2 linked regions of the Homo sapiens genome follow. The protein of the gene in region 2 interacts with the protein of the main gene of each other region in a pairwise test. Each region holds a gene or a part of one and is shown on either strand. Other genes may lie near its edges.

The links.
Region 1: the proteins of EIF2AK2 (region 2) and NLRP3 interact in binary tests that used the Homo sapiens proteins (3 or more experiments, as listed by UniProt).

The regions. Positions count from the first base shown.
Region 1 is NC_000001.11:247,425,839-247,442,552, reverse strand, and holds part of NLRP3 (NACHT, LRR and PYD domains-containing protein 3), read right to left. Parts: intron 12,969-16,714; coding exon 12,798-12,968; intron 8,451-12,797; coding exon 8,280-8,450; intron 6,584-8,279; coding exon 6,413-6,583; intron 3,273-6,412; exon of another isoform or gene 3,020-3,272; intron 1-3,019. UniProt on the Homo sapiens protein: Sensor component of the NLRP3 inflammasome, which mediates inflammasome activation in response to defects in membrane integrity, leading to secretion of inflammatory cytokines IL1B and IL18 and pyroptosis.
Region 2 is NC_000002.12:37,093,910-37,110,811, forward strand, and holds the end of EIF2AK2 (interferon-induced, double-stranded RNA-activated protein kinase), read right to left. Parts: intron 15,387-16,902; coding exon 15,285-15,386; intron 13,619-15,284; coding exon 13,565-13,618; intron 13,487-13,564; coding exon 13,364-13,486; 3' UTR 5,301-13,363; downstream 1-5,300. Other genes in the region: GPATCH11 (G patch domain-containing protein 11), read left to right, coding at 173-286, 1,528-1,609, 2,299-2,354.

The sequences.
Region 1 (16,714 bases), on a different chromosome or scaffold from region 2:
AAGGCCTTTTAGAGCATAAAACCCCAAAAATGCATCAATCTCGATGGAATTAAGAGTTTTGATGTACTATTCTTGAGTCAAATTAAGCCCATTCTATCACCCAGGAAGAGCATAAGAGCTCTAAAATCACTGGTGGCGTAATTCCTAGGAGCACAGATGCTTCTATTCCATGAAGCCAGGAATAGCGCAGGTGATTGCCTCCTTCCTGCCAGAGTCCTTGGCAATGGCATGTTTTTTAAGCTCTTTGGTGTCTACGAGGCAGGAAAAATAGAAATACAGAAAAAGTGTATTCAGACAGTAAAGCATGAACAGATGACCAGCAGGAAAAAGTGATTATCCATCCACTGGTTTCTATCTTCCCAATTAAGGAAGAGTCAAACTGAAAAGACACAGTAAGTAAGACTAATAGGCAAATGAAGCCCAAGAGAGACAGACAAAAACAAAGCAAGTTTTGAGTGGCTTCTACTAAGCTCTCATCCCCGGTAAGAATTCTATCAGAGGGTTGTTGTTAATTAACATGCAGAAGGGATTAGTAGCATTCCTGGCAAAGGCCAGGGACATTCTAGTAGAATGGGGATGGTCTTCAAAGAGGAAAAGAGAAAATATTTTTTAAATTATGTAATTAAAGTTATGCAGGCTTTACCACTATTTCCAAAAAGGAGTAGAATGGATTATTCAACAGATGTTTGGGGAGCACTACACAGTAGTAGTAGAAATTGCAACAGACGGTGCAGTTTTGTTAAGAAAACGTCATATCCAAATTGTGAAAATGCTGGTAACTATTAAGCAACGGTTACACTGAACACATAATAAAATGTTTAAAGAATCAAACAACCATGTCCCACCAACCAATCCTTGGATTAGAGGAATGTGATTGACATCTCGATTTCAACCAATCCACCTAACTGAGCTCTACATTTACCAAGCACGGATATCTTGCCATGTACTGTATTAAGTTAATTGGTTGGGGATTTTTATTTATTAACTACCTGCCTATGTCACAAAACTGTCTCATAATGAAAACTGAATCCCAGTGCTTTGGGAGGCCAAGGTGGGAGGACCACTTGAGGCCAGGAGTTTGAGACCAGCCTGGGCAACATAGCAAGACCCTGTCTCTACATAAAAAATTTTAAACATTTTAAACATTACCCAGGCATGGTAGTACACACCTGTAGTCCTAGCTAGTCAGAAGGCTGAGGCAGGAAGATTGCTTGAGCCCAGGAGAGTTCAAGGCTACAGTGAGCTATGATCCTACCACTGCACTCCAGTCTGAGCCACAGAGCAAAACCCTGTCTTAAAAAAAGAAAAGAAAAGAAAGGAAAATAAGGAAAGGAAAGGGGAAAGGGAAAGGGGGGGGGGAGGGGAAGGGAAGGGAGAAAGAGAAAGAAAGAAAGAGAGAGAGAGAGAAAGAAAGAAAGAAAGAGAAAAAGAAAAAGAGAGAAAGAAAGGAGGAGGAGGAAGAAGGAAGGAAGGAAGGAAGGAATCTGAAGAAGAAGATCAAACATTTTTTGAGTATTTATTGTGTGCTTGACATGGATGACGACTTTAAACAGGGTTATCTCATTGAATGATCACAACCTCAAGATGGGAATGTTAGTTTTATCCCTGCTTTTAAATGGACAAAATGAGGATCACAGTAATTAAAAAATAAGTAGGAGCTTCTTAGATGGATAGTAGAAAGTGGGAAAGTGGGGGTAACCTTCCAGGCAAAAGGAAAAGAGTAGCAAGAATAAGGAAGATTAAAAGAACCACCAAGATGTTTCAAAACTAATTCATAGCTGGGCACAGTGATGTCCACCTATAGTCCCAGCTACTTGGGCGGCTGAGACGGGAGGATTGCTTGAGCCCAGGAGTGCAGATGAGATCAGGCACTCTGGGTGGTATGGCTGTAGATGAACCCAGGAATTCAAATTCAGCCTGAGCATCATAGCAAGTCCCCATCTCTAAAACAGCAAAACAAAACTCATCCAATATGACTCAAAATGGAGTGCAAGGTATGGCAGGAGAGAGGGCAGTATCAGGGACAGCCTTGTGTGCCAAGCTAAGATGTCACTCTGACTGCAGAGAAGAACTTTTGAAGATTTTTGAACAAAGGGTCAATATTTTCAAATTTGCATCTTAAAAAGTTCCCTCTGGTGTAGTGATGAGTGGTAGAGGGAACCGAAAGCAGAGCATTTAGGACCGTCCCCCGTTTACTCACTCAGCAGCCTCCTGGAAAGCCCCACTATTCAATGAGGCAGGAGGAAGAGGGCAGGAGCAGGTCAGAGAACGGGGGTGGAAGGTGGGGTATGATAATTAAACCAATGTTGCAAATGCTCAGCATGTGTGACCCTTGAGCAGTATTGAGACAGGCAGTACACAATATGCAGCCAGAGATGAGGACCCAAAGTTCGAGAGAAAAAAATGTAGCTATACCTAACACATAGGCTATACCTAACACATAGGCTATACCTAACACGTAGGCTATACCTAACCCATAGGCTATACCTAACACACAGGCTATGCCTAACCCATAGGCTATACCTAACACACAGCCACATGTATGGCTGTACCTAACACATAAAATGCATAAAAGTCTCGACTGATTAATGCCACTTATAGATACCTATCTCAAAGCAAATACACATGCATAAAACTATATATACAAATGTGCTTTTTGCAGAGTTGTTTGTAATAGTGGAAAAGAACAGTTATCCCAAAATGCATGATTTGATTAAATAAATTATGGTAAAGCACACTATGGGATATTATGCCCCAATCGATAGATCTACACAAATCAGCATGGAAATTTATCCATGATAAATGAAAAAAGGATATCACAGAAAAATATTTATATTATGGTTCTAGTTTCAATAGATAGGGTGTTATGGATTGAATTGTTTCCTCTAAGACTTTATATGTGGAAGTCCTAGGCCCCAGTACTTCAGATTGTGACCTTATTTGGTGATACGGTTACTGAAAATGTAATTAGTTAAGATCAGGTCGTTACAAATCTAACATGACTTGTGTTCTTTCACAGGGAAACTTGGGACATGGAGAAAGACACACACAGACACAGGGAAGACACCACGTAGAGATAAAGGCAATGGTGTGGCAGAGGCATCTACAGGTCAAGGAATGGCAAAATGTGTCAGCAAGATGACATTCCACCAGAAGCCAAAGAGAAGCATGAACAGATTCCCCACAGCCCTCAGAAGGACCCAGCCTGCTAGCATCTTAATCTCACACTTCTGGCCTCCAGAACTGAGGGACAATAAATTTCTGTTGTTTAAGCTGCTCTGTTTGTGATACTTTATTACAGTAGCTCTAACAGACTAGGCATTTAAAATACTACATAACAATGTATTACAAATGCAACATGAAAATCACATAGGTCTTCATTCACATTACTGATATAAATACCACCCAGATCAGCATATACAGGAAATCCATTTGTCCATAATTAGCAACCAATATATGTTCACAAAGCTCTGATACTCCCTTGGATGGATTGATGGATGGATGGATGGATGGATGGATGGATGGATGGATGGATTGACGGATGGAAAATAGAGGGATGGATGATGGATGGATGGATGGATGGACAGATGAATGGATTATATAACAATCTATTGTATTAAAAAAAGTCTGGATGGTTGTTCATCAGACTATTGTAAATGGCTCTCTCAGAAGAGGGCTGAGAAGGAGCTTTCACTTTCCACTTTGTCTGTACTATGATATGTTTACACCAAGCATGTGTTACTTTTCTAATAAAAAGTTTGTGAATGATATCTGGGTTTGAGACCTACTGTTGTTGAAATTGAGAGGTATATGAGAATTCTCAGGGAGTTTAGAAATATTTAGTAACAACAACAACAAAAAAGGTAAACCAGGCGGGTGTGTGGCTCACGCCTGTAATCCCAACACTTTGGGAGGCCAAGGCAGGCAGATCACCTGAGGTCAGAAATTCGAGACCAGCCTGGCAAACATGGTGAAACCCCGTATCTACTAAAAATACAAAAATTAGCCAGGCATGGCAGTGCACACCTGTAGTCCCTGCTACTCAGAAGGCTGAGGCAGAAGAATTGTTGGAACCCGGGAGGCAGAGGTTGCAGTGAGCCAAGATTGCGCCACTGCATTTTAGCCTGGGTGACAGAGTAAGACTCCAACTCAAAAAAAAAAAAAAAAAAAAAAACACAACTAAACCAGTCGTGAAATCCCCAGACCACAGGAAGAGAAGCCAATGCAGGATCCAGGGAGGGGGAAGCTATAACATTAGCAGGAAAGACTAAGTAGTGACCTAAAAATAAGAGCGAAGAAGGCTTCCAAAGAGGAAGAGTGAAATGAATTAAAGGCAGCAGATGTCAACTAAAGTAAGGACTGGGAAGGACCTGTACGACCTATAAGGACCCAGCCTGCTGATGCCTCAGTCTCAGACTTTGGCCTCCTGAACTGAGAGGCAATAAACTCTTGTTGTTTAGGCCGCTCTGTTTGTGATACTTTATTACAGCAGCTCTACCAGGTTAGGTATTGACAATAGTAACTACATAGAGCATATTACAGATGCATCAGGCACATTTGTAATTGGCTTGTTTGTCATGTGGAATTTGGAACCAGGATCACTGAGAGTCACCTGAGTGCCTACGCCTGGGCCTCTTCGGTTCCATCTGCTTTGCCTGGAGGGCTCTTCCGGCTCCTTCACAGCCCATCCCACGCTTCACTGAGCACCTGCTCCAATGTCACCCGCTCGGAGAGGCACTCGCCAAACGTGAGCAGAGAAGCACCCCTCGCCGTCACTCCAGTTTTTCTTATAGCTCTTATACACAGGGTATATTGTTTAGCATGTCTATTATCTGTTATCACTTCCCTAAAAGAACGGTTGTGAAAACAGGATTTTGGTCTGTTTTACTCACTGCTGCTGTCAGTGCCCACCACAGAGCCCCCAGAGGGCCTGCAAAATGAAGGGACAAAATCATGTCTGTTGAACAAACTTAGAGAAGCAGAAGTCAAATTGCCAAGGAAGAGTAATATTCTAAGGCGATTTGCTAAGGAAGGGTAATACCCTAAGGCGAGGAAATGAAGGCACTGCAGGAAGACTTCATAGAAAGAGATATGGTCACATCTGAGGATTGGCTGATGGGAGAGGTCCAAGGAAGTATCAGAGCTTTGTGAACAGAGGTTGGTTGTTAATTATGGATTAGTGGATTACTCCTCTGGGAAGACCTTTCCTGCCAAATTTTGTCTTGAATGCTGATCTGGCTGGTATATATATTAATAATGTGAATGAATGAAGACCTATCCAATTTGCTTATTGTATTTGTAGATATTATTGTCAGAATGAAGATTCAAAACTGCCTAGTCAATGGGTCAAAAGACAGGTAAGATGAGGTTTAGCAAAGCTAAATTGGAGGTCCCACCCTTAAGCTGAGAGCCAGATGAAGAAGCCCTGTAGAGAGCCCATTAGCAACATCTCCTAAGGCAATGCACTGGGAATTAAGGCAGTGGCTTGGGAGGTCACAGACGTTTGTCTACACTGAGTTCCACTACCTTCTCTCTGAGTGTCCTTGGACAAAGTTATGAGGCTCCCTGAATTTTATTTTCTCCTCTTTAAATTGGAGACACAGATACCCTACCCTATAGCATCTTTCTGAAGCCAACTGAGAAAATCCATGTAAGAACATGAAAGAGCAGGTGATACAGGGAAAGTGATACAGGAAAGTGGTACAGGGAAAGTGCATGATTATTAGTGGGTATTCCCTACTACTGTTTACTGCAGAATTCCAACATGAATCAAAAGGCTTATGTAACTGCCAAAAAAAACAAGGAAATCAGAGATTCCACCAGTGAAACCATAGTTCTCTGCAACAGGAGGTAAAACATCCACCATGCATCATCAGGTCTGGGCACCACATTTCAAAGACAGACACTAACAAACCAGCCTGTGTACCTGGGAGAGCATGGCTACATAGGTGAAGGTGCTGAGCCATGACACTGTTGAGGATATAGAGGCTGCAGTGTAAGAGTCCTCTCCTAGTGTAGAGGCTGCAGGGTGAGAGCTCTTTCCTAGTGTAGAGGCTGCATGCACTATGCGATAACTTGCATGCTTGCAAGCATGCACACATAAAATGGGTGACTATTCATGTGAGTGTCTTGGAAGCAAGTTTTTCCCTCAACAGGCAATTGGGCTGCACCATCTCTAAGGTTTCTTCCAACACTAAGAAACTCTAGTTCTATAATCATAAATTAGCATAAATTATCTTATTAGCAGCAGTATACATTATATGCCTCCAGTCCTTCAAAGCATTTCTGATGTTTTTACCTCCTTACTCTACCTTCAGCTCTGCCTGACCAAAGTAACCCCCATCCACATTTTCCAAATAATTCACCTCTGAAAAGAAGTTACTTTTCTGGTAAGACACCCATGAAGACTTACCCCAGTTTCTGCAGGTTACACTGTGGATTCTTGGCTTTTTCACATAAAATTGCGACTCCTGAGTCTCCCAAGGCATTCTCCCCCACATAGAGTCTGGTCAGGGAATGGCTGGTGCTCAATACTGATGCAAGATCCTGACAACATGCTGATGTGAGGCAGCAGCTGACCAACCTTCCATAGAGATGGCAGAATGTCAGTCATGTCTCTCACCCACGCTCCACCATGGACAAGGAAGCACCCGTACCTGCCACTGCCTCTACTCCAGTTTACACATGGAAAGGGAGTGGACACAAGCTCTATGTACACTTCTGATTTCCTTTTCCATTTGGTGGAATAACAAGTAAGCATTCTCCAAGCTCCCACCAATACTACATCTTCCCAGCTCCCTACATTCAGCTTTATTGTGGTAAAATACGTGTAAAATAAAATTTACCATTTTAACCATTTTTAAGTGCACAATTAATGGCCTTAAGCACTTCACATTGTTGTGCAACCATCACCACCACCATCTCCAGAACTCCTTTCATCTTGCAGAACTGAAACTCCATAACCATTAAACAATGTCTTCCCACTCTCCGCCCTCCCATTGCCTGCAACCACGTTTCTTCCTGTCTCTATGAATCTGTCTGTTCTAGACACCTCCTATAAGGACAATCAGAGTATTTGCCCTTTCGAGTCTAGCTTATCTTACTTAGCATAATGTCCCCGAGGCTCATCCATGTTGTAGTGTGTACTAGAATTCTTTTTAAAGCTGAATGTACATATATAGCACTTTTCAACACCCTTCATCCGTTGAAGGACGTTTGGTTATTTCCACCTTTTGGCTATTTCTAATAGTGTTGCTATGGACATAGATGTACAAATAACATGTTTGAGTTCCTGCCTTCTGTTTTTTTTAATGCTTCCTCTGTCACCCAGGCGGGAGTACAGTGACGGGATCTTGACTCACTGCAACCCCCGCCTCCCAGGTTCAAAAGATTCTCTTGCCTCCACCCCGAGTAACTGGGATTACAGGCATGCACCACCATGCCTGGCTAATTTTTGTATTTTTAGTAGAGACAAGGTTTTACTATGATGGCCAGGCTAGTCTCGAACTCCCGACCTCCAGTGATCCACCTGCCTCAGCCTCCCAAAATGCTGGGATTACAGGTGTGAGCCACCGCTCCTGGCTGAGTTCCTGCTTTGAACTCTTTTGCAGATATACCCAGCAGTGGAAATGCTGGCTCCAGTAGTAATTCTGTATTTATTTTTTAGGAATTGCTGTGCTGTTTTCCATAGTGGCTGCATCATTTACATTCCCACCAGCAACACACAATGGCTTCCATTTCTCCGCACCCACACCAATACTTGTTGTTTTCTAGTTTTCTTGCTTTTGTTTGATAATAGCCATCCTAATGGGTGAGAAATGGCCCTTCCATTTTTAAGTGGTTTTTTCTCTCCTTCAAAATGCAAGTCTCCCAGAAGCACTCAGGGAAGGGCTGCATACAACATCGAGGGTCTGCATTGCTTTAGCACCATTTTTCTTATACAATATGAGGACCCAGGGCTTGTCATGAAGTTCTAAAACTCCTCTAAAGCAATGCATTACACTGATTTTTTCTTTTTGTCAGCTAGGCAGTAGGCACCCTAAAGGCAGACATCTTCTTTTTGTTATTATTTATGCTCCTTGTCAGGGTTGAGTGTGTGGCTTTCCCCACGACAAACACTCACTGACCGCAATGCTAGACACCCCAAGACAAGCACACGCAGTCACCCGAGCCGCCAAGGCCATTCTCACTCAAACCCCAGCCCACCGGGCCTCACTGAAGCCAGAGTGCGCAGCACGCCTCGCTGGCAGAACTTCCTTAGGGGAACGGGCTCGACTCACCAGAGCTTCTTCAGATTGCACAACAGGTGCTTCAGTCCCACACACAGAAGTCTGATTCCGAAGTCACCGAGGGCGTTGTCACTCAGGTCCAGCTCCACCAGCTTCTGGTTGCTGCTGAGGACCAAGGAGATGTCGAAGCAGCACTCATGCGAGAGGCCACAGCGCCCCAACCTTCATGCCAAGAACAGAGGCAGAAAGCATCAGAACACACCTGACCAGAGAGCTCCAGAACAGAGGAAGCATCAGGACACACCTGATCAGGAAGCTCCGGAATAGAGAAAGCATCAGAACACATCTGATCAGAGAGCTCCGGAATACAGAAAGCATCAGAACACACCTGACCAGAGAGCTCCGGAATAGAGAAAGCATCAGAACACATCTGACCAGAGAGCTCCAGAATAGAGAAAGCATCAGGACACACCTGACAAGAGAGCTCTGGAATAGAGAAAGCATCAGGACACACCTGACCAGAGAGCTCTGGAATAGAGAATGCATCAGGACACACCTGACCAGAGAGCTCCGGAATAGAGAAAGCATCAGGACACACCTGACCAGAGAGCTCCGGAATAGAGAAAGCATCAGGACACACCTGACCAGAGAGCTCTGGAATAGAGAAAGCATCAGGACACACCTGACCAGAGAGCTCTGGAATAGAGAAAGCATCAGAATACACCTGACCAGAGAGCTCCGGAATACAGCACAAGGCACATTGGGAGGTCAGCCCCCAGTCTCCCCAGTCACAGCAGAGGGATCACCTGTCAGTGAACTCCCGGCCGTAAACAGTGCCGGGTGCATTGAGATCACCCCCCAGACATGTGAATGGTGCGCTCCTGGTTTGTAAGTGAAGCGGGCGGTGTGGGCCTGTGCACCCACCTCCTTCCCTCGTGTTCCTAACCATTGACGTGCCCGCAGTCGGCACTGCCCTCGCCAGTGCTGCACTCAGCTATTTCTTGTCTTCACCAACATTGTCACCCCATTGTGTTTGACGATTTCATCCCAGCCCTCCATCTATATTGAAAGGAAAAGCAGCTCTGATTCTTTTTCTTTTCTTTTCTTTTCTTTTTTTAAAGACAGGGTCTCACTTTGTTGCACAGGCTGGAGTGCACTGGCGAGATCATAGCTCACTGCCACCTCGAACTCCTGGGCTCAAGGGATCCACCTGCCTCAGCCTCCCAAGTGGCTGCAAATACAGGCATGTGCTACCATGCTTAGCCATTTTATTTTATTTATATTTTATTTTTATTATTATTATTATCTTCTAAAGACAAGGTCTCACCAGCTTGCTCAGGCTGGTTTTGAACTCCTGGGCTCAGGTGATCTGCCCACCTCAGCCTCTCAAAGTGCTGGGATTCCACATCCCGCTGCAGCTCTGATTCTTGATTAGTTTCCCCGTCACACACATGCACACAAACACACACGCACATCACTACCACCGTCACCACCACCACCAGCAACAAAAACTATACTTTATCCCTGTCATGGGGGCAAGAACAACATTCTAGCTTCTTTCCAGGGCAATAGTTCATAGGTCCTGGAGCCTGTTAGACCACCTTCCTTTCTGTCCCTATCCTTACACCAACTTCAAGCAAATGGACAAATGGATCTCTACTTCTCTGCGAAGCATCTCACTGTCCCCTACCCTTCCCTGTTTGTGTCTGCCTCTCCAGAATCATACAGGGGCAATGGCAGTGGGGAGAGAATTTGGGCATGAAGTTGGAGAAATAAGGTTAAATGTCCCAAACAACCAGTCTCCATGGCACTACGATTTGAAATTTACCAAAAGAGCAAAGATGAAGAGTGTGATCTATATACATAATGGAATACTGCTCAGCCATAGAAAAGAATGAAGTCACATCTTTGAAGCCACACAGATGGAACTGGAGGCCATTACCTTAAGTGAAACAACTCAGAAACAGAGTCAAATACCACACGTTCTCACTTACAAGTGGGAGCTAAACAAAGGGTAACATCCATAGAGCATGGAATGATAGACACTAGAGCCTCAGAAGGGTGGGAGGGTGGGAGCCAGGTGAGGGCTGGAAAATTATTTATTGGGTACAATGTTCACTATTTGGGTAAGAGTTACACTAAGGCCGGGCACGGTGGCTCACGCCTGTAATCCCAGCACTTTGGGAGGCCGAGGCGGGTGGATCACGAGGTCAGGAGTTTGAGACCAGCCTAGCCAATACGGTGAAACCTTGTCCCTACTAAAAATACAAAAATCAGCTGGGCGTGGTGGCCCATGCCTGTAATCCCAACTACTCGAAGAATTGCTTGAACCCAGGAGGTGGATGTTGCAGTGAGCCGAGATCACTCCACTGTACTCCAGCCTGGGCAACACGGCGAGAGTCCATCTCAAAAAAAAAGGGGTAGTTACAGTAAAAGCCCAGACACTACCACTGTGCAGTAACATATCCATGAAACAAAGCTGCTCTTGCGCCCCCTACATCTACAAAAATAAATACATAAAGTAAAAAATAAAGAGCAGAGCAGACAGAAAGCATTTAAGCCACCGAACAGCACAATCGAATCAGAATTTTCTAAAGGACCATCTTACTTTTGTGCAGAGAATGGTCGGGTGAGGGAAAAAGGCAGACACAGGGAGACCAAAGAGCCAACATTCATTCAGTGCGTGCTTTTGACCACTGATGGGTACTAAGATGTCTGTCCAGGCGTGGCAAAGATGACAGCAAGACAAACAAACGCAAACCCCATCCCCGGGGAGCTGATGGTCTAGGAGGTCACTGCGTGTCCAGGCAAGTGGTGACAGTTGCTGGACCTGGGCTGGTGGGGTGAGGACGAGGAAAAGTGGAAAACAGCTCGGGTAGGAGGAAAAATTGATAAGACTGGTGACAAGGTGAGTGTGTTGAGCCGGAGAGGGAGGTAGCAAAATGTCCTAGAGTGGCGGACTTTAACACTTGCTGTGCAGCTCCTCAAAAATGCAGACGCCTGCATGCGTCCACAGAGCAGGGAATGAAACAGAGCTAGTGAGGCGGCCCAGGCACCAGCGCGGTGGGGCGTGTGAATCTGATTCATGGTGTGGGAGAAAGCAAGCACATTTTTTATTATTATTATTATTATTATTATTTTGAAATGGAATCTCGCTCTGTCACCCAGGCTGGAGTGCAATGGCACGATCTCGGCTCACTGCCATCTCCGCCTCCCGGGTACACACAGTTCTCCTGCCTCAGCCTCCCGAGTAGCTGGGACTACAGGTGTGAGCAAGCACATTATTAATAAAGTCACAGGAGATTCCCTGTGACATTTCAACCCATACAAAGCATTCTGACCAGGCTGGGCAACGTGATGAGACCACATCTCTACAAAAAAAATACAAAAATTAGCCAGCATGGTGGTGCATGCCTGTAGTCCCAGCTACTCGGGGGAGCTGAGGTGGGAGGATTGCTTGAGCCTGGGAGGTCGAGGCTGCAGTAAGCTGTGATCACACACTCCAGCCTGGGTGACAGAGAGAGGTCCTGTCTCAAAGAAAAAAAAAAAAAGTATTTTCATAGTTTTTAGGTGAGGTTGCCATTGTTGTAAATGGCAAATTCTCCAACTCTCATCTATGAACATGGCCCATGAGGAAATGGAATATATCGAGCATCATGGTTGTTTCAAGAAATGACTTTTTTTTTAGTTCCTCATTCATTCTTCCCCACACAAAACTTCCCCAGCTGGCCTCCAACCCATTCTACCTTCTCACTTGTTCTGGGCTGAACTGTGCCCCCCCAAAAATTTACATGTTGAAGCCCTAATCCTCAAGACCTCATAATGTGGCTGTTTTGGGAAATGGGGTCTTTAAAGGAGTGACTAGATTAACATTAGGTCTTGTGTAGTCATGCCTGACTGTGCCTAATCCATCAGGACTGCTGTCCCTGTAAGAAGAGGAGACTAGGCCACTCTTCCCCCCAAGGCAAGATGGCATCAGTACACAGGGAGAAGGGGGCATCTACAAACCAAGGAGGGCGGCCTCAGAAGAAACCAACCCTGCTGACACCTTGATCTTAGACTTTCGGCCTCAGAACTGCAAGAAAATGAATTTTTGTTGTTGAAGCCATTCAGTCTGTGGCACTTTGTTACAGCAGAAACCACACCACCGGCCGGGTGCGGTGGCTCATGCCTGTAATCCCAGCATTTTGGGAGGCCGAGGCGGGCGGATCACCTGAGGTCAGGACTTCGAGACTAGCCTGGACAACATGATGAAACCCCATCTCTACTAAAAATACAAAAAATTAGCTGGGTATGGTGGTGGGTGCCTGTAATCCCAGCTACTCAGGAGGCTGAGGCAGGAGAATCACTTGAACCCAGGAGGCAGAGATTGCAGTGAGCCGAGGTCACGGCATTGCACTCCAGCCTGGGCAATAAGAGCAAAACTCTGCCTCAAAAAAAGAAAAAAAGAAAAAGAAAAGAAAGAAACCACACCAGCAACCTGGTCCTGAAGATCTTTCTCCAGTCTGTTTCTCTCTCTCTCTCTCATATGAACTTGCACTCACACAGATCACATGCACGGGGACTCACCACAATCTCCGAATGTTACAGCCAGGATGCTGGAGCGTTTCACACAACACTCTCATCCCTGGGTCCCCCAGAGAATTGTCACTGAGGTCCAATTCAGTTAGACTCTGGCTGGTGCTCAGAACTGAAAAGAGGCCCCGGCAAAAACTGGAAGTGAGGTGGCTGTTCACCAATCTAGGAATTAGAAGGAAGACAGACAGAAAAGAAATCAGCCTCGAATAATAACTAACTGGAGCTGGGGGCCGGGGTGCCTGGCACCAGTTCAGAGAAATGCCTTCCGGGGATTAAGAAATGGGTCACGAAACCAAAAATTGTTCCCAGAGAAATGAAGAGGGCTGGATGAGCCTTGGTAAAAGCAGTTCTGCCTCCTCTCGGACGGAGAGCATGAGCCTGTGACTGTGGCGGACTGTGGCACCCTACAGCCTGCTCCCCAGTGTCCTCCTCTCGCCCTTACCAGTCCACTGTCCCAACATGGCCCTGAACGTTCTGTGCTGGGTGATCAGAGGGCAGTCCTCACTCCTGGCTACACAACAGCATCAGGAGTGCTCACAAAAATCCTCAGGCCAGGCTGGGCATGGTGGCTCACACCTGTAATCCCAGCACTTTGGGAGGCCGAGGCGGGCAGATCACCTGAGGTCAGGAGTTCAAGATCAGCCTGGCCAACATGGTGAAACCCTCTCTCTACTAAAAATACAAAAATTAATTGGGTGTGGTGGCACGAGCCTGTCATCCCAGCTATTAGGGAGGCTGAGGCAGGAGAATCACTTGAACCTGGGAGGTGGAAGTTGCAGTGAGCCAAGATCATGCCACAGCACTCCAGCCTGGGCAACAGAGCAAGACTTCATCTCAAAAAAAAAAAAAAGAAAAAGAAAATCGCAAGCCCAGGCCACATCCATGGAAATAAAATCAGAAGCTCTGAGGTGGAACTAGATGAATTTTTTAAATTTTTTTTCAGATGAAACCCAAGCTGGAATGCAGTGCCATGATCATAGCTCACTGCAGCCTCAAACTCCTGGGCTCAAGCAATCCTCTTGCCTCAGCCTCCCGAGTAGCTGAGGTTACAGGCACGAGTCACTGTGTCCAGCTATATGGATCTTTTTTATTTAAAAAAAGCCAGGTGGCTCCAACATGCAGTCACATTTTTGCTTTTGTTTTTCTGTAGAGAGGTGCTCTCACTTTGCTGCTCAGGTAGGACTTGAATTCCTGGCTTCAAGCAATCCCCCCATCTTGGCCTCCCAAAACCTAGGATTACAGGCAAGAGCCACTGCACCCACACATGCAGTCACCTTTGAATCACCTGTAGCTCTCATTCAAATGCAAAGTCTAGCTCTCTAGGTCTAAGATTGGGTCCACAATCCTGCATTTCTAATAGATGCTCAGGCTTCTGGTTCTCAGAAGGGACTGGAACATACAAAGCAAGCTCCTGCCCTCAGAGTAAGGCAGCTGCCATCTAGAAAGATGGGTGCTGAGCCCCCTACCAGGGCTCCAGTCAGAGTCTGTCCTCAGAGTAAGGCAGGTGCCATCTAGAGGGATGGGTGCTGAGCCCCCTACCAGGGCTCCCGTCAGAGTCTGTCCTCAGAGTAAGGCAGGTGCCATCTAGAGGGATGGGTGCTGAGCCCCCTACCAGGGTTCCAGTCAGAGTCTGTCCTGAGGAAGGAAGGTGCTATCTAGAGAAATGGGTGCTGAGCCTCCTACCGGGGCTTCAGTGAGAGTCTGTCCTCAGAGGAAGGAAGGTGCTATCTAGAGAAATGGGTGCTGAGCCCCCTGCCAGGGCTCCAATCAGAGTCTGTCCTCAGAGGAAGGAAGGTGCTATCTAGAGAAATGGTTGCTGAGCCTCCTACCGGGGCTTCAGTGAGAGTCTGTCCTCAGAGTAAGGCAGGTGCCATCTAGAGGGATGGGTGCTGAGCCCCCTGCCAGGGCTCCAATCAGAGTCTGTCCTCAGAGGAAGGAAGGTGCTATCTAGAGAAATGGGTGCTGAGCCTCCTACCGGGGCTTCAGTGAGAGTCTGTCCTCAGAGGAAGGAAGGTGCTATCTAGAGAAATGGGTGCTGAGCCCCCTGCCAGGGCTCCAATCAGAGTCTGTCCTCAGAGGAAGGAAGGTGCTATCTAGAGAAATGGGTGCTGAGCCTCCTACCGGGGCTTCAGTGAGAGTCTGTCCTCAGAGTAAGGCAGGTGCCATCTAGAGGGATGGGTGCTGAGCCCCCTACCAGGGCTCCAGTCAGAATCTGTCCTCAGAGGAAGGAAGGTGCTATCTAGAGAAATGGGTGCTGAGCCTCCTACCGGGGCTTCAGTGAGAGTGTGCAAACCTTCCTCACAGATGTGTGATCTTCATAAGGTCTCCCTGCCCTCTCCACCTTCCACCTCACTCTTAATGAGTAGTTCTGCCTACTTTTCTCTCTGTCTTACTCTTCTTCTCCCATTTCTATGGTCTGAATGTTTGTGTGCCCCAAAATCCATACGCTGAAATCCTAACCCTCAACATGACGTATCAGGCGATGGGGCCTTTGAGGTGTGGTTAAGTTATGAGGGTGGAGCCCTCAGGAGTGGGATTGCTGTCCTTAGGAAAGGGACCCCAGAGAGCTGCCTTGCCTCTTCACCATGTAAGGACACAGTGAGAAGGCACCATCGACCAGGGAACAGGCCCTCACCAAACACCAGATCTGCCAGAGCCTGGATCATGGACTTCCCAGCCTCCAGAACCGTAAGGTGAACCTTCCTTTTGCTTATAAGCCAACCAGCCTGCAGTGTTTTGTTATGGCAACCTGATGAATGAAGACAACTGTCTTTTTTCCAGTCACTCGGAACTGTTTGCTGCCGTAGAAACCGTACCCTGCTTTCCCACACCTGCCCTCTCTCTCAACACCGTAAGCCCCCAGCCTGGCTGCCCCTTTCCTTCTCTCACTCTCTCACTGCCCATCCTCCGGAAGCTGGCTGAGCGGGGACACCCACCCGTGCCCCGCTGGTGAACAGGTTCGTCCCCTTGTGCTTTGGATACTCTGCAAGTTTCCTTGTCAGAGCCCATGACCCCCTCCCCGACATCTGCACTTGTTTCCGGACTGTCCCACAGCCAGACCTCAAGTCCCTGTGACCAGGACCTGGGTCTTCACCACCACTGCGGCCCTGTGGGCAGTCAGTCCTTCATGGCCAAACCATGACTAGGAAGGTGGTCCTGGTCATGGTAATGTCAACGGATCAAGAAAGCTGAAACTCATTGTTGCCTGTGGAAGGGCCAAGCCTCCTGTTTCCCTTAATTTTGCCCCACGTCAAGTGTCTTCTATCCAGGCTAAACTCACACATCACAGGGTGGCCACCTTCCTACAACCACTGTGGGTGGTCCTTCTGCAGGAGGCACTGAACGATAAACCCAAAAGGGACTCAGAAGTCAGGTGACTCAACCACTTCATTGCACAGACTTGGCCACTAGCTTCCAACCACCCAGCAAGTGTGTGAACAGACCCGAAAACGGGGTTTTGGCAATGCCCAGTGCAGAGCAACATGGGGGCCTAGAAAGAGGGTCTCCACATTTCTGCTCTATTTCCCTTGATTTACCTTCATCATGTTTTTTTCCAAGGAAACTGTGTCTCTCTCCACTGTCACCTGCACACACTTTTTCTCAGACTGCATTCATGATTTGGCTCATACCAGTCTTCAGTGCAGAATTCCTTTAATTTCTTCTCTATGCGCCCAGGTCCCACCATTCCTTAAAGGAGGCTTAGATTGCACATTTCTAAGAAACATCCCCCCAGCCTCCAGCTCTGAGGCCCTCTGTCCCCTCGCTCCTGGGACACAGACTCTCTGGCATTGTTCTGCCCCACAGACATTGACTGACTCTTAGGCACTAGTGCTCCAAGTAGCTTACAAGAAATTTCAGTTGACAAATATTTGTAGGCAATCCTACATCCTACTTAATACCTTGTGCTA
Region 2 (16,902 bases):
CTCCCAAAGTGCTGGGATTGCAGGCGTGAGCCACCGTGCCCGGCCAGTGTTTTTACTCTTAAAGCCACACTCAGTGAATACGTATTGAAAGAATGAATTCATGTTGACATGAACATATTTGTCATGCTCTTATGTTTAGTATGTTTAATTGAGACTACTTCTGCATTTTCAGAATATTCAGGTTCCCAGGGAAGCATGGTACTGGTTGAGGCTTGAAGAGGAGACTGAAGAAGATGAAGAAGAAAAAGAACAGGATGAAGATGAATATAAGAGTGAAGATTTAAGCGTATGCTTTGCACCATTTCCTTCATAGGGTGTCTCAGCCTTGGCAACATTAGCACTTTGAGTTGTGGTAATCCGTTGTTGTGGAGAGCTGTCCTGTGCATTGCAAGATGTTTAGCAGCATCTCTGGCCCCTGCCCACCAGATACCAGTTGCACTTTTGCTTATGACAACCAAAACCCTCTCCAGACATTGCTAAATGTCCCCGAGGGGAAAAATAACCCCTGGTTGAGAGGTACTGCATTGCAGGATTACTTTACTAACCCCAAATCAAAACTTACATATAATTTTTCCCTTTAGCTTCCATTTGTCCTCTCATCTCAGCTTCAGTTTGGATGATGAATTAGCAACAAATGTAAATTATTTTAATTTATACCTTATTTCCTGCAAAACTTCTACAAGTCATTCTAATGTGTACTTTTTTCTCCTACTTATAAACAACAAAAAAACACAATCAAAAGAAAATGGAGGCCGGGCATGGTGGCTCACACCTGTAATCCAAACACTTTGGGAGACCAAAACTGGTGGATCACTTGAGGTCAGGAGTTTAAGACCAGCCTGGCCAACATGGTAGTGTATTTTAGTCTCTACTAAAAATACAAAAATTAGCCAGGTGTGGGGCACCCAATAATCCTAGCTACTCAGGAGGCTGAGGTAGGAGGATCACGTGAGCCCGGGAGGCAGAGGTTGCGGTGAGCCAAGATCACGCCACTGCACTCCAGCCTAGGTGATAGACCGAGACCCTGTCTCACAAAAAAAAAAAAAAAAGGAAATGGAGATTATTCAAGAAAGGAAAACACACTCGTATGCTTACTTGAGTATAATAATTTTGTGGAAAACATTCACAATTTGAAAAACCTATATTCCACTTAATTGGGAGACCATTGATGAGAACTTTTATGGCAAAAGGAGGCCATATTCACCTTCACCTTATCTGGGGGAGGTAAATGCCTTGAAAGTAGAAAAAGCCTTTAAAGGATGCCAATTTTAATAAGGCCACCCAAAAACTATTTTCTCAATGTTAACAAGCAGTCTCCATTGTGTCTGGCAGACTTGTGGAAATCTCAGGGTGGCTAATGAACTGTAACACATTCGAATATATCAGTTCTGTCCTTGACATTTCTAATAACTATTCCAGAGTATAGCAGAATATTTACAGCCTTGAGCTAATTCGGCACGATCTAAGAGCCAGAAAACCAAGGTTCTGTTCAATGTAAAGTATTAATAATGTGCTTGTATCCTATAGGTACTGGAAAAATTACAAATATTGACTAGTTATTTAAGAGAAGAACATCTATATTGTATTTGGTGTGGAACAGCCTATGAAGGTAAGAAAATTACTTTATGCTTTTTAAAAATAGATGAATGCTCTCCAATTTTTAGTTAAAGTCATTTCCCACTGACAATGGAAATTTCTTATTCCATTCAAATGGCAGTATGGGACCAATTTCTTAAATAGTGGATATAGAAATAATTGAGGCTTTATTAAAATTGCATTTAACTTTTCAGAAACTGAATGTGTGGAAGTGAATTTTTCAGTGTTTTGTTTCAAAAGAAACAATTTTAGAATAACCTGAGAATGATGAATGTTTTGTGCTTTATTTTTAAAGATTCTTTCTTTGGCTACAGATATTTGAAAGAATTTATATTAAATTTTAGAGCTAATTTTTATATACTTAGATAGAATATTGCCCCTAAACCGTAAAAATCAGATATGTTGAAATCCATTCCTTTTTTTTTCCATTGTAAGGATAGAAATGGTTTACACTTACCAGGTGTCTTACAGAGCCAAGTGTTTCTCCTTCTAACACCTTTGCCCAAGCTACCTTTGCTAACTTGTATTTAAGAACTTTGTACTTGAGAGTGAAGCATTTTTGGTTATTGTTGTTTTTATCTTTTCTGGTTTAGCAGAATAAGTAGAAAACATCAGATCAAAAAATGCATGTTATGTTGAAATAATTTTCTAGTTTACTGTAGAAGTTGTATTAATCTTTCATTTCCCTCACATAACTTACAGATAAAGAAGACCTATCTTCAAATTGTCCAGGACCAACTTCTGCAGATCATGACTAAGATTATTCCCAATAAAGTGGAAACTTGAAAAATGTTATTACTTCCTAGGGATAGACAATTTAGCAGTTGGAAATCTCAAATTTTTTATGCCAGTAAAGAAAGGGGGACTTTATATAATGTTTTGTTCTTTTTGTACTTTAGAATATGAATGTTCATTGACTTGAAAAAAATAATGCAATGGCATTTCAGAACACAAGTATCACAGAGATGGACAGTTACAATTTATTGCTATATTGTGATACGTGAGGGGTTTAAGGACACCAACAGGTAACTTCTTATTCCCCTCTTCACTTTGGAACAAATTGAGAAATAAGAAATGGGAGTCAGAGGAAGAGAAAAATATCCACTTTATCAGTGAATAAACTGATACAGAGAAGAAGGTTGACTTTTTCTCCAGTCAGAGACTGTAATATTTCTCCCTGATTGGAGAGAACAGCGGGTCTCTGCCTTGTTGGGGCAGAGCCCATCTTTGCATTCTGAGACCAGTTAGCTTTCAAGGTCAGGGAAACCACCAGGGGCTGGACCACACATGCTCAGTTCCTTCTTGTATCACCCATGGGATAAGACAGTTCTCTCTTGGGAAGGAATGAATGAGGGTTCAGAGAGCTTTTTCCTACACTTCTTGCTTTGAAGGAGCAAGGAGAAGTTCCCTTCCCTCCATCCAAGCATGAAGAGGAGGGGAAAAGTATTCCCCTCAATAAGGCTGATGTCAGAGGCAATGTTCGACCAGTACTACTAAATTCTAATCCATTTAACTGTGATAATTTCTGGTAAAATCATGAGTTTTCATGACAATGTCTATATCCATTATATGTGATCTGTTGGAAGTTTTGGCTAGAGAAACTTAATTGTGAGGAAATTTAAATATTGTGTGATGCAAGTACTTACTGAATTTGGAAACCCCTTGATAGCATTCCCAGCAAGTGATAGTTCAACCTTTGCTTTTATTCTTCCAGCCACAGAGAACTCACTGCTTTAAAACCATTCCATTACTGGGTAGCTCTGAATTGTTTTCATTGTTTTCTCTTAAACTGAAATCTGCTTCCCTGTAATATTAATGAATACAGCTAAGGACATACCGTGTGGCATACTATGAGAGAGCTCCATCCAGGGTGAGGCATCAAAATCATGAACCTTTTTAAAAGTTCATATGCTCAGGTGTCTCTCCTAGTGATTGATTTTGATTTGTCTTGGCTAAGGTGGTTCCTGGATATCTATATATTTATTTTGAAGTCCCAAGAATGAGTGATAAGCACCTGAGGATAAGAACTAGTACTGAGGTTAAGGATGGAGCACCACCATTCTTTGGATAGAGTTGTGATCACCTGTGTGATTTTATAGCTCACCTGTTAGTTAGATTGAGCAAGAGAACAACCCCTTTTATTAGAAACAGCATACATAAGAAGATTGTAAAAATTAACCTACACTTGCTAGGGTAAGATAATCAGTAGTACAATTTGTATTAATCTCTGACCTAATATGACCTAATTCACTTTTCAAGTTTAACTTGGGGAGCTTTACAAAATAGTAATAAAAGGGTCCCATCCCAAGAGATTCTGATGCCATTAGTCACTGTGACTTGGGCATCACTGCCCTTGATTCTAAAATGCAGCCTACCTTGAGCCACTAATCTAGTTAACTTCTGGGCCTCAGTTCTTCATCCAGAAAACTAATCATTATTTTTATGAATGTAAATATGTGTATATATATAATATTTATATGTTTGGATGCTATTGTTTAATATTTACTTTTTTGTTTTTAAAAAAATTATAAAATTGGCTGAGCGCAGTGGTTCACTCCTGTAATCCCAGCACTTTAGGACGCCAAGGCAGGCAGATCACTTGAAGCCAGGAGTTCAAGACCAACCTGGCCAACATGGTGAAACCCCATCTCTACTAAAAATACAAAAATTAGCTGGGCGTGGTGGCATTCGCCTGTAATCCCAGCTACTCAGAAGGCGGAGGCATGAGAATTGCTTGAACCTGGGAGGCAGATATTGCAGTGAGCTGAGATCATGCTGCTGCACTCCAGCCTGGGTGACAGAGCAAGACCCTGTCTCAAAAAAAAAAATTATATATATATATGTATGTATATATATATATATATAGAGAGAGAGAGAGAGAGAGAGCTATTAATAAAACAGAGGAGTACATTTTACCCTTGCAATTCCAGTCAATACTGTGGTGTCATTTCAGCCAACATACCAACATTCAGTCAAATCCCAAAGCCAAATGGATAATTTCAGATGGAATGGAGTTAGACAGGAACTGGCTTCCCTTTCTCCTGTTACTATGAGGACAACCCACACCTGCTCAGTGGCCTAAAATATTTTAAATATGTTCATGACAATTATGCTGAGAATGCCAGGATAACACTGATGGAACCCATGACTTCACCAGGATTGTGGTCTACATTTACAGGCCTAGTACTAGAACTAGACCGGCTTAGAGAGTGGGAGATATCCCTCTGTTGTCCATCGAAAGATAAAAATACAGGCTTTCAGCCGGGTGCAGTGGTGCATGCCTTTGGTCCCAGCTACTCAGGGGGCTGAGATGGGGAATCCTTTGAGCCCAGAAGTTTGAAACCAGCCTGGGCAACATAGTGAGAGACCTCCATCTTAAGGGAATAAAAAAAAAATCAGACTTTCAATATGAGTAACAAGTTATTTTTAGGCCTTTTATGACTTTATAAATAGGCAATAATGAACACCAAGGGAAGCAAAACACTGAAAAGAATTTTAAAATTTGTTGTAGAACATTAATACGAAATTTGAAACTGCAAAACAATGTAAAATTTAATGTCATGTTGTCATTTACTTTTGTGTATATTGTGCCATGTTTATTTTCAAAGTCCTATCTAGAAATTCTAAAATGTCTAATTTTCTTAATTAAAAATCCAGAATTCTGTAGTTTCTGAAATTCAAAATAAATACTTTAACATACCAAATTGGTTTTTCTAATAAACATTTATTTCAAGTGTTATTTGTTAAACATTTAATTGTTGAGATTTGAAAATGAACATTATTATTTATTAGACACATTTTATAGGCTCATTCAAAATTCTTAACTTTTGAGTTCCTGCTTTCTTCACAGCAGTGCACTCACTACTTTCTGGTATACAAGAAGAACAGCTTGTCCCCACTCTTACAGTGTAATGAAATTAGCAGTATAATGAAGAAAAGTGCTGTGTAGGAATGACTGAGCTCTAAGACAAACTGGTAAGAACAATTAGGTACTAAACAATGGGAGTACTAGGGAGAAGATTCATTTTGAGTGGGAGATGTTGGAACACTTTGGAAATAACACTGAATTTGGGTTCTGAAAGATGGATATAATTTTGATATGCAAAGTTATGAGGAAAGAGTTACTGTATAATCCAGCCATTCTCCTAGGAATATACATCCAAGAGAAATGAAAACAAGTCCACATAAGATTTGTACACAAAAGTTCATAGTAGCATTATTCATGGTAGCCAAAAAGTACAAACAACCCAAATGTCCATCAGCTGATGAATGGATACATAAAATGCGACATATCCATATGATAGAATATTATTTGGCAATAAAAAGGAATGAGATGCTGATTCATGCCACAGCTGGGATGCACCTTGAAAATATACTCAGTGAAAAAGACCACATGTATGATTCCATTTATATGAAATGTCTAGCATGGGCAAATCTATAGAGATGGAGAGTAGATTAGTGGTTACCTAGAGTTGTGAGAAAACAGAGTGAATACTAACGGGCATAGGGTTTCTTTTGGGGGTGAGAAAAATGATAGTTGCACAACTCTGAATATAGTAAACACTACTGAATTGTATACTGTATAGGTGAATTGTATGGCATGTGAATTATATCTCAATAAAGCAGTTATTAAAAAAAAAATGAAGAGAATTTCAGATAGAAACCACAGGAGAGAGCCACTGAGTGCAAAAGCCTGTTGAGGTAAAACTGCAGACCTGCATGGGTGGGGCTTACTCGGGAAACACTGAATATGGGATGCATCATGGAAGCCTCCAGAGGAGCATGGCCTTGCCCAGTGAACTGCAGCCCAGTGAATCTCATTTTAGACTTCTGGCCTCCAGAACAGAAAGAGAATAAATGTGTGTTGTTTTAAACCACCAAGTTTGTGGTAATTTGTTAGTTATAGCAGCCATAAGAAATTAATACAGGTCCAAATCAAATTAACCCCATAAGAGCCACACAGATTTGAGAAGCATTTTATTTGCCTCACAGTTTTGCCTATTATACAGTTTCTAGTTATTTAGAATTTAAGCCAATAATGTCACCATATAACTATCAACTGTGATTCCCTTCATCTATGACTATTTTTAAGAAATGTAAGATTTGGATAAGTCATAATCACAGATCAGAAACTGCAGACATTGAGGCCTGGATGGCCGTTTAGAGAGAAAGAGTTAACATTTCAGTGGAGACCTTTCCTATCTTGTATTTCCTACAGTCTCCTCCTATCTTCAGTGCAGTGTTCTGGCAGCACCTCAAGCTCACTGTCACCAAATGGGATTCAACGTCTTTCCTCCCAAACATGCTCTACCTCACCATGTCGATAGATGTACAGTCGCCCCACTACTGGCTTAAATTCTAAATTACTGAAAACCATGTAACAGGTAAAAGTGTGAGACAAAGTACCCCTCAAATACATGTGGCTCTTGGGGTTCATCTGACTGAGACTTGTATTTACTTGAATGGCATCAGAATCCTGCTACTAACCTTCTAACAAACTTGGAGGTAATCTTTGATGCTTACCTTTCCTTAATCCCCACATCCAATTAGTTGCCAACTCCTCTTGGTTCTGTCCTCTTATTGTTCAGGCCCTCTTAGTCTTTCCACTTCTGACCTTTCAAATATAGTTTCCTCCTGCTCTATTCTAAACATGCTAGTTTCAAAGTATTGGTTGGGCCATACCTTGCTTTAAAGAAATACTCATTTGTCAACTGTGGAGGTTGCTAGGGCACTAACTCACTCTAAAATTTGATAAATATTTATCGCATCTTTCCCATTCAGATTTAGAGAAAGTTCCTTAAAGAAGAATCATAGATGATAAATGCAAGAGGTTTGATAGAACCAGAAAATCACTATTTTACAACCCCTGAAATGAAATAATGGATCCAGGCAACAATTATCAATAGCTGCTAAAACCATCAGGTGAAAGATTGATGAGAAACTTTGTAGTAGTTGGTACCACCAGAACTCATTGATCAATATTAAAATCACTGAAAGTGGAACAATCAGACATCATGTTCCTCCTGAAATGATGTAAGAGAAAGTGTATAGCATCACCTATGGAGTATTCTTGGGGGAAAATAAATGAACCAGGATCAAATCCAGCTTCTAGGTCTAACTGGACACTCTGGGGATACTCTCAGTCAAATCCTGAGTGGAGGAAATTCCACAGGACAAATAAAAGCCGAAAAGAACTAAAACGCAGGGGTAAATTTTACAGAGTAAAGGAGACACATCAACCAAATGCAATGTTGGATCTAGATTTCAACAACCAAGAAAACTGTATTTTTGAGATAGAAACAATACAGACTATTATATGATAATTAAGGAAATCTTGTCAATTTTTTGAGTGTGACAATGATGCTGTGGTTTTGTTAAAAAGATTTATCTGCTAGAGATACATTTTAAAGTACTTACAAGTGCAATGATGTAACACCTGAGATTTACTTTAAAATATTCCAGTAGGGCCGGATATTGTAATCCCAGCAGTTTGGAAGACCAAGGCAGGAGAATCTCTCAAGGCCAGGAGTTTGAGACCAGCCTGGGAAACACAGCAAGACCATATTTCTACAAAAAATTTAAAAATTAGTTGGGTGTGTTGGTGTATGCATGTAGTCCCAGCTATTCAAGCGGCTGAGGCAGGAGGATCACTTGAGCCTAGGAGTTCGAGGTTACAAGGAGCTGTGATCGTACCACTGTACTCTGGCCTGGGTGACAGAGTGAGATCCTGTCTCTTAAAAAAAAAATTACAATTAAATACTTCACCAAAAGAAACAAACAAAAAGTAAGGGGTTAGATGTATTAAGAACGGTAAAGTATTGATATTTGTTGCAGCTGGGTGATGGGTAGAGTTTCATTATTCTATTTTTGTGTATGTTTGAACATAAAGAAATGTATGAATAATATTGAAATTATTCAATATTCCATAATGAAAAGTTAACATGCCAAGAATCTCAAATTATGGTGAACACTCAGTGGGGACTGCATATTGTGAGTTATGTCTCTAGTTAGTTAACAGATAGTAGAGACCTGGAAAAGCTTGTATGTAGCCTTTTAAACATTTCTTCTCAGATACATACATGCATATATATGTATTATATAAAATACATATTCATACACATATGTGCACACACACAGGATGGCTTCATGGACATGCAACCTGTGCAGTTGCACAAGACTGTGCTTAGAAGCACCCCACACCTAATTTTTGAACGAGGGCCGTACAGTTTCATTTTGCCCTTAGTCCCACAAATTATGTAGCTGGCCATACACACACATGCACACATACCACATACCCACATGTATATATGCATATATTGTGTACATATGTATATACATTGAATATATTTAACATAAGTGTTAAGTATGCATGTGAATTTTATGTATGTATTTATGTTAAACATGTACGTATTTAAATAACATGTGGTTTAGTGATAAAAATTCCCTAAAAGGTATGTTTCTAGGGAGGCAATTATATTAAAATGGCTCTCAAAATTTCTGTGTGTGTGTGTGTGTGTGTGCATTTTAATTAGCAAATAAGGTCCCAGGCTCTTGCCCCTGTCCTCCTCTGAGTAAGAGGATACTTTTTACTTTAATTTTGAGGCCAAGAAAATATATACTCACAAATCAAAAGAAGTTGCTAAGAAATGCTATATTCATTTAATAAGAGTAGGAATATATATATCTTTTTTTTTCTTTTTTTTTTTTGAGACTGAGTTTTGCTCTTGTCACCCAGGCTGGAGTGCAATGGCGTGATCTCAGCTCACTGCAACCTCCACCTCCTGGGTTCAAGCGATTCTCCTGCCACGGACTCCCGAGTAGCTGGGATTACAGGCGCCTACCACCACACCCAGCTAATTTTTGTATTTTTAGTAGAGATGGGGTTTCACCATGTTGGCCAGGCTGGTCTCGAACCCCTGACCTCAGGTGATCCACCCGTCTCGGCCTCCCAGAGTGCTGGGATTATAGGCGTGAGCCACCATGCCCAGCCAGAGTAGGAATATTAAAATGAGGTCAGTAAAGATAAGGCTACATTCTCACTAACTGGCCACATCATTTAGTGTTTCTTTTGAATATAGCCTCATTAATCAAAACCAGATATTGTTTTTTTAAAAAAAGATTTCTCTCTACGCAGAACATTTCCAAATCTACAGAAAAGTTCAAAGAATAATACAACAAACACCTGTGTACTGTCATCTAGATTTACCAATTGTACAATGGCTAATATTTTGCCACATGTGTGCCCTCTTTCTCTCTCCATGTTGATTTTTGCTGAACATTGAAAGTTGCAGACATCATGACACACTTGGCCTCTAAATGTTTGTGCATGCATTGCCTAAAAAAACATTTTTGGCTGGGTGCAGTGACTCATGCCTGTAATCTCAACACTTTGGGAGGCCAAGGCAAGTGAATCACCTGAGGTCAGGAGTTCAAAACCAGCTGGGTCAACATGGTGAAATTCCGTCTCTACTAAAAATAGAAAAAATTAACCTGGAGTGGTGGCAGATACCTGTAATCCCAGCTACTCAGGAAGCAGAGGCAGGAGAATCACTTGAACCTGGGAGGCAGAGGTTGCAGTGAGCCGAGATCGTGCCACTGCACTCCAGCCTGGGCGACACAGTGAGACTCTGTCTCAAAACAAACAAACAAACAAAAACAAAATAAAACAAAACAAAAAGACATTTTCTACATATACTATTATCACACCTGAGAAAACAGTTATTTGGCATTGTTATCTAATATGCAGTCTATATTCAAATGTTCTCAATTGTCCCGAAGATATCTTTATAGCTGTTTGCTGGGTTGTTGCTTTCTTTTATTATTATTATTATTTAGATATGATCTCACTCTGTCACCCAGGCTGGAATGCAGTAACATGATCATGGCTCACTGCGGCCTTGACCTCCTAGGCTCAAGTGATCCTCCCACCTCACCCCCCCAAGTAGCTGGGACCACAGATGCACACTACCATGCCCAGCTAATTTTCTGATTTTTTGTAGAGATGAGAACTCACTGTGTTGCCCAGGCTAGTCTCAAAATCCTATGCTCAAGCCATCCTCCCCTTTTGACCTCCCAAAAATGCTGGGATAACAGGCATTAGCTACTGCGTCCAGCTTTTGTCTTTTTAAATATCCAGAATACAATAAAGATTCAAACATTGCATTTGGTCATTGTATCTTACAAGTCTCTCCCCTTTTTTTTTTTTTCATGACACTGACTTTTTGAGAAGCCCAAGTCAATCATCTTATAGAATGACTACATTCAGGATTTGTCTAATAATTTCCTCATGATTAAATTCCAGTTTAACACTTTGTGCAAGAAAACTAAATAGGTAAAATTCTTAAGTCACATCAGGAGGGGCATAATGTTAGGGTGTTCCACCTTGGGTGATGCTAAATTGAATCACTTGGTTATTGTGGTGACCATTGTAAAGGTACATTTTCCCCTGTATAATTGATACCTCTTCTGTAGGATTATATTTAAATCCTTGTAGAAGATCCTATTCCACAATAGCTTTTCATCCAATAGTTTTAGCATCTATTGATGAACGTTACGTGAAAAATCTATGAACTGCTCTTTATGAACACTTTTTAAAGCCTTTATAAAACTATTTTCTCTTACTGTATTTTCACTTTTTGCTTAACCTAAATTTGGCCCTTTTTAAAAATCCTAAAATCATATGGCAGTTTTAGAATGGTAGCTGGTTGCTGCTATAGTTTGCATGTTTGTCCCCCAAAATCTCATGTTGAAATTTGATCCCAGTGTTGGAGGTGGGGCCTGATGGGAGGTGTTTGGGTCATGGGGGAAGACCCCTCATGAATACATTAATGCCGTCCCTGGGGGTGGGGTGTGCTGGGGAGGAGAAGCAAGGAGTTCTCAATCTATTAGTTCCCTCAAGAGCCGGTTATTTAAAAAGAGCCTGGCACCTTCTCCCTCGCTCTCTTGCTTCCTCTCTTGCCATATGATCTCTGCACATCCGGCTCCCCTTCACCTTCCACCATGAGTGGAAGCAGCCGGGGAAGAAGCAGATGCTGGTGCCATGTTTCTTGTACAGCCTGCAGAACTGTAAGTCATATAAATCTCTTTTCCTTATAAATTATCCAGCTTCAAGTATCCATTTAAACCAATAAGAAACAAACTAAAACAATTGCCCTAAGTTGAAATTCACCCTCAGGGTCGTCTTCTAAGATGCAATTTAAATTATCTTCTCTACAGCAATTCAGGACAACAAACTAGCATACCCCATGTTCCTCAAATATATCTTCTCCAGAGCTCATGCCAGACCCCTTGTCCAGACTTCCTGGGTGGTCTCCTCTCTACTCATCTAACACCCTGGCATATAGTTGGAAGGCCCACTGGGCTGTCACTTCTAGCCCTGTGCTCAGCAGAAAGCCATCTTACCCTTCCCGATGGACTATTTTCTGTTTTTAGCTACTGCCTTACAGCACGGTTGTCTTTAAAGTGGTTGTTACAATAGATACAAAATGTATTTAAGATAAAAGGTATAACTATGCAGCAAACACTAGTGGACCTACCATCCAGCTTAAGGAAGTTACCATTACCTTTGAAAGTCCATTTCCCCAATCACATCATTCCCCTCCCTCAAAGATAACCACCATCCAGAATTTAATATTTCTCATTCCCTTCCTTCCCATTATTGTCTCATCACATTTGTTGGGTTTTTTATACAAAATGATTTAGTTTTGCATGCTCTGGAACTTTATATAAATGGAATTATTCTGCATATATTTTCTGAAAACCTGCTTTGTTCGCTTAACATTATGTTTCTGAGAGTTGTATTGTGTTACGTTATTACATTTAGCTGTACTTCAATTGTTTTCAATACTATATAGTACTCCTGTGTGTGAATATAATTTTTTTAATCCATTCTTCTTTTGATGTGCATTATGGTTGTTCCCTGTTCTTTTGGCTATTATAAACAGGGTTTTATGGACATTCTTGTAAGCACGTATGTAGGAATAGAATTGATAGCTATGTGGGTATACATGGATTCAACTTTACTAGATAATGCCAAATTGTTTTCCGAAGTGGTTGTACATCACTTTTTTTTTTTTTTTTAATGAGTACCATATTTCTCCAGCTGGCTTGTAAGCTATGTGAGGCAGAGAACGATCTTACATTTTTTTGGCCTAAAAGCGGTAGAAATTTAATAAATAGATATGAATTGATTGATTCATTAATAGTATAAAAAGAAAATTTGGGGGTGGTTTTTCCATCTTTAGAACAAAGAGATGAGGCTGGGCGCGGTGGCTCATCCCTGTAATCCCAGCACTTTGGGAGGCCGAGGCAGGTGGATTACTTGAGGTCAGGAGTTTGAGACCAGCCTGGCCAACATGGTGAAACCCTGTCTTTATTAAAAACACAAAAATTAGTTGGGTGGGTGGCACATGCCTGTAATCCAGCTACTCAGGAGGCTGAGGCAGGAGAATCACTTGAACCCAAGAGGCAGAAGTTGCAGTGAGCCAAGACTGTGTCATTGCACTCCAGCCTGGGCAACAGAGCGAGACTCTGTCTTTAAAAAAAAAAAAAGAATAAAGAGATGAGCCAGGAAAAAGTAAAATGTAAGAATGTTTTTGAAGCAAAAAGAAGAAAACCTTTCTGTTTCTGCAGAAAGATTAGTAAAAATAGTAAAAAATTAAAGGAAACATTAAAATAAAAGGTAAATATCTATTGATATTCCCTAGCAGATTTTAGATAATTTAAGGAAAACTGCATATCAGAAGCAGGATACTTTTTCAGAAGGGCTCTAACATGTGTGTCGTTCATTTTTCTCTGGGCTTTTCTTCCACACAGTCAAGGTCCTTAGTATTTCAGATGTGTTAGGTCGATCCTCAGGTTTCTTTGAGAGTAATTTCTGTAGAAGAGTTTTCTGCAATGACAGTGAGAGTCAATAGTAAGAAATAAAACATTGAAATAAATAAAATTCTGATGATTTTCAAGTGCTTACTTCTTTTTTATCAAATATATCTGAGATGATGCCATCCCGTAGGTCTGTGAAAAACTGGAAAAAAAAATGATAGGTGTATATTAGGAAATTATTTACTTGGGAGGAAAGACAGAACTAAAGGCTGAGGAATACCTGAAATGTAGGATATTTCCAGATTTTTTGGGAAAGTCTCTTTAGCCAAGAAGCAAGCAGGATTCCCTCTCTCCTACACTACCCCCAATCTAATAACCATCCTTGCATTACGACATGAAGTGTTAAGTGCATCATCTTTACAATCTCCCTTCATGCATTTTGGAACCCTAAGTGATAGGTACTTCTAACTGTTTTACAGAGGATAAGGTTATTGACTCCAGGAAAGTTCCCTTTCCTGAGCTTAAGAGTAGGATATCCAGCTGGGTGCAGTGGCTCACACCTGTAATCCCAACACTCTGGGAGGCCGAGGCGGGTGGATTGCCAGAGGTCAGGAGTTCGAGACCAGCCTGACCAACATGGTGAAACCCCATCTCTACTAAATACAAAAAAATTAACCAGGCATGGTGGTGCACGCCTGTAGTCCCAGTTACTTGGGAGGCTGAGGCAGGAGAATTGCTTGAACCTGGGAGGCAGAAGTTACAGTGAGCCAAGATCGCGCCATTGCACTCCAGCCTGGGCAATAAAAGTGAAACTCTATCTCAAAAAAAAAAAAAAAAAGAGTAGGATATCCACTTGCCTACTGCCTTTAGTGACTCCCCACTGTCTAAGCAAGAAGGTCCACATTTTTTCCTCAAGTTAGCCCAACCTATCTTTCTAGCCTCACCAACCACTACTTCCTTGTAACTTATATACTCCAATACAACTTACACTGCCTGCTGTCCCCAAATACACTCTGTACATTCCCGCCTCCATGCTAGAATCAACTTTTCTGTTTTGGACTATTAGAAGCCAACAGATCCTTCAGAGCCCAGCTTAGATGTCTCCATGAAACCTAAGTCCCTACAGCTGGAAAGATCTCCCTCCCAGCTGCTTCCACAGACTTCATGCCTTCTCCTAAAATGCTTATGGCATTCTCTTATATTATCTTCCCTTTTAGAAAATAAGCTCCTTGAGAACAAGGCTTTATTCATTTATTTATTTAGAGATGGAATGTCACTCTGTCACCCAGGCTGGAGTGCAGTGGTGTGATCTTGGCTCACTGCAACCTCCGCCTCCCAGGTTCAAGCGATTCTCCTGCCTCAGCCCCCTGAGTAGTTGGGATTACAGGTGTGCACCACCACACCCAGCTAATTTTTGTATTTTTAGTAGAGATGAGATTTCACCACGTTGGCCAGGCTGGTCTCGAACACCTGACTTCAAGTGATCTGCCTGCCTTGGCCTCTCAAAGCTGGGATTACAGGGGTGAGCCACCGCGCCCAGCCAAGGCTTGTTTATTTTTGCAACCCTTACAGCACTTAGCACAGTGTCTTACACAAAGCAGTCAATCAATAAAATGTTACTGACTGACAAGTCTTACAAGTCTTATGAGATGTACTACCTTCCAGGGAAGATCAAAGTTTTTGGTCTTTAAGAAAGTGTTTGGTCTCTGCCAAACCTTGAAAGACAGAAAATTCATATTTCATTTGCAGTCAGATACTAATATGCTCAAGCCCATCCTCACGTGAGGGCAAGAACTGTCTGCAGCAGCACTCTGAAGGTGGTAGTCAGTAATTTTTCTTGTTTAATTCTTTCTTTGAGATAATTTTACCTTTGATGTTTCAAAAGCAGTGTCACATACATGAAGAAGTTCAGCAAGAATTAGCCCCAAAGCGTAGAGGTCCACTTCCTTTCCATAGTCTTGCGAAGAAATCTAAAGAGACCAAAATAGATTTACCTTTGTTATGCTCCTTACATAAATATCCAGCCTTCTAAAGCCCAAAAAAGTTATTTGACCAAAACATCTTACACCACAAAACAATGTCTATTTATTAGCAAAATCTGTGGAGTCTGACTGCCTAGGTTCAAATCTGTACCGCCGAATAGCTGAATCCTCTGTGTAAATTAACGATCAACATGGGAATAATCTCAGTTATAAAACAAGGATAACAACAGTATCAACCACAGAGTTTGATTGTGAGAGTGAGATGCAGCAGGTAAAGCAGTTAAAATAGCACCCAGTAGGCGGCTTGCATTGCAACTGTTCATAGCGTATTTATTCACAATATTCCATAACTGGAAACAACTCAAAGGACCACAACAGAAGAATGGATAAACATGTTGTGGCATATTCATACAATGGACTACGACTCAGCAATAAAAAGGAATTCTCTGCTGGTATGAGCAACAAAGTTTTTCCAGAAGATATTATTTTGAATGAAGAAATTAAATACAAAGAGTACCTACTGTATGATTCCATTCATATGAAGGTCAAAAACGGGAAGAACTAAGCTATGGTGATAGAACTCAGAGTGCTGGTTTCTTCTGATCAGTGGGGAGGAGGCACTGACTGGAAAGGAGCTTGAAGGAGCAAAATGTTCTATATCTTTATAGTCTTATAAGTTACAGAGGTGTATGCATTTGTCAAAACGAAAAAATATACACTTAAGATCTGTGCATTTTATACTGTATAAATTGTTCCTCAACAAAATGTTGCCTTTTTTTTTTTTGAGACGGAGTCCCGCTGTCACCAGGCTGGAATGCAGTGGCGTGGTCTCGGCTCACAGCAGCCCCCACCTCCCAGGTTCAAGCAGTTCTCCTGCCTCAGCCTCCAGAGTAGCTGGGACTCCAGGCACGTGCCACCACGCCTGGCTCATTTTTGTAGTTTTGTATTTCTGTATTTTTGTTTTTTTAGTGGAGATGGAGTTTCAACATCTTGGCCAGGCTGGTCTCAAACCCCTTGACCTGAGGTGATCTGCCCACCTCAGCCTCCCAAAGTGTTGGGATTACAGGCATGAGCCACTGCACCCAGCCAACAAAAGGTTTTTAAATGGAAAAAAAAACCACACACACATAATAAAAAGTAAAGTACAATGATGAATGTTTTTAACCAAATAGTGTGAGGGCAGCAATACAGGATGCAGGAGATACTGAAAGCAGCAGGAAGTTAAAGAGAGCCACTGGCCTATTGTGTTCTATATTTTTTATGCCAACTGGCTCCCCAAAAGGAAAAAGTACATGCCTTCTCCATTCTAGACTCTCAAACCATCAGATAGCTCAGTATATCTATTCTTGGATGACAAAATAGTAGAGATATTTTGAAAGCTGTATTGTCAGCAAAATAATCTTTAACGGGCATTTACAAATCAGAAATTAAAATAGGATAAACAACCCAAAAGGTAAAAAATAAAAGCAATCAACCCAAAAAAAAATCACATTCAAATAATGAG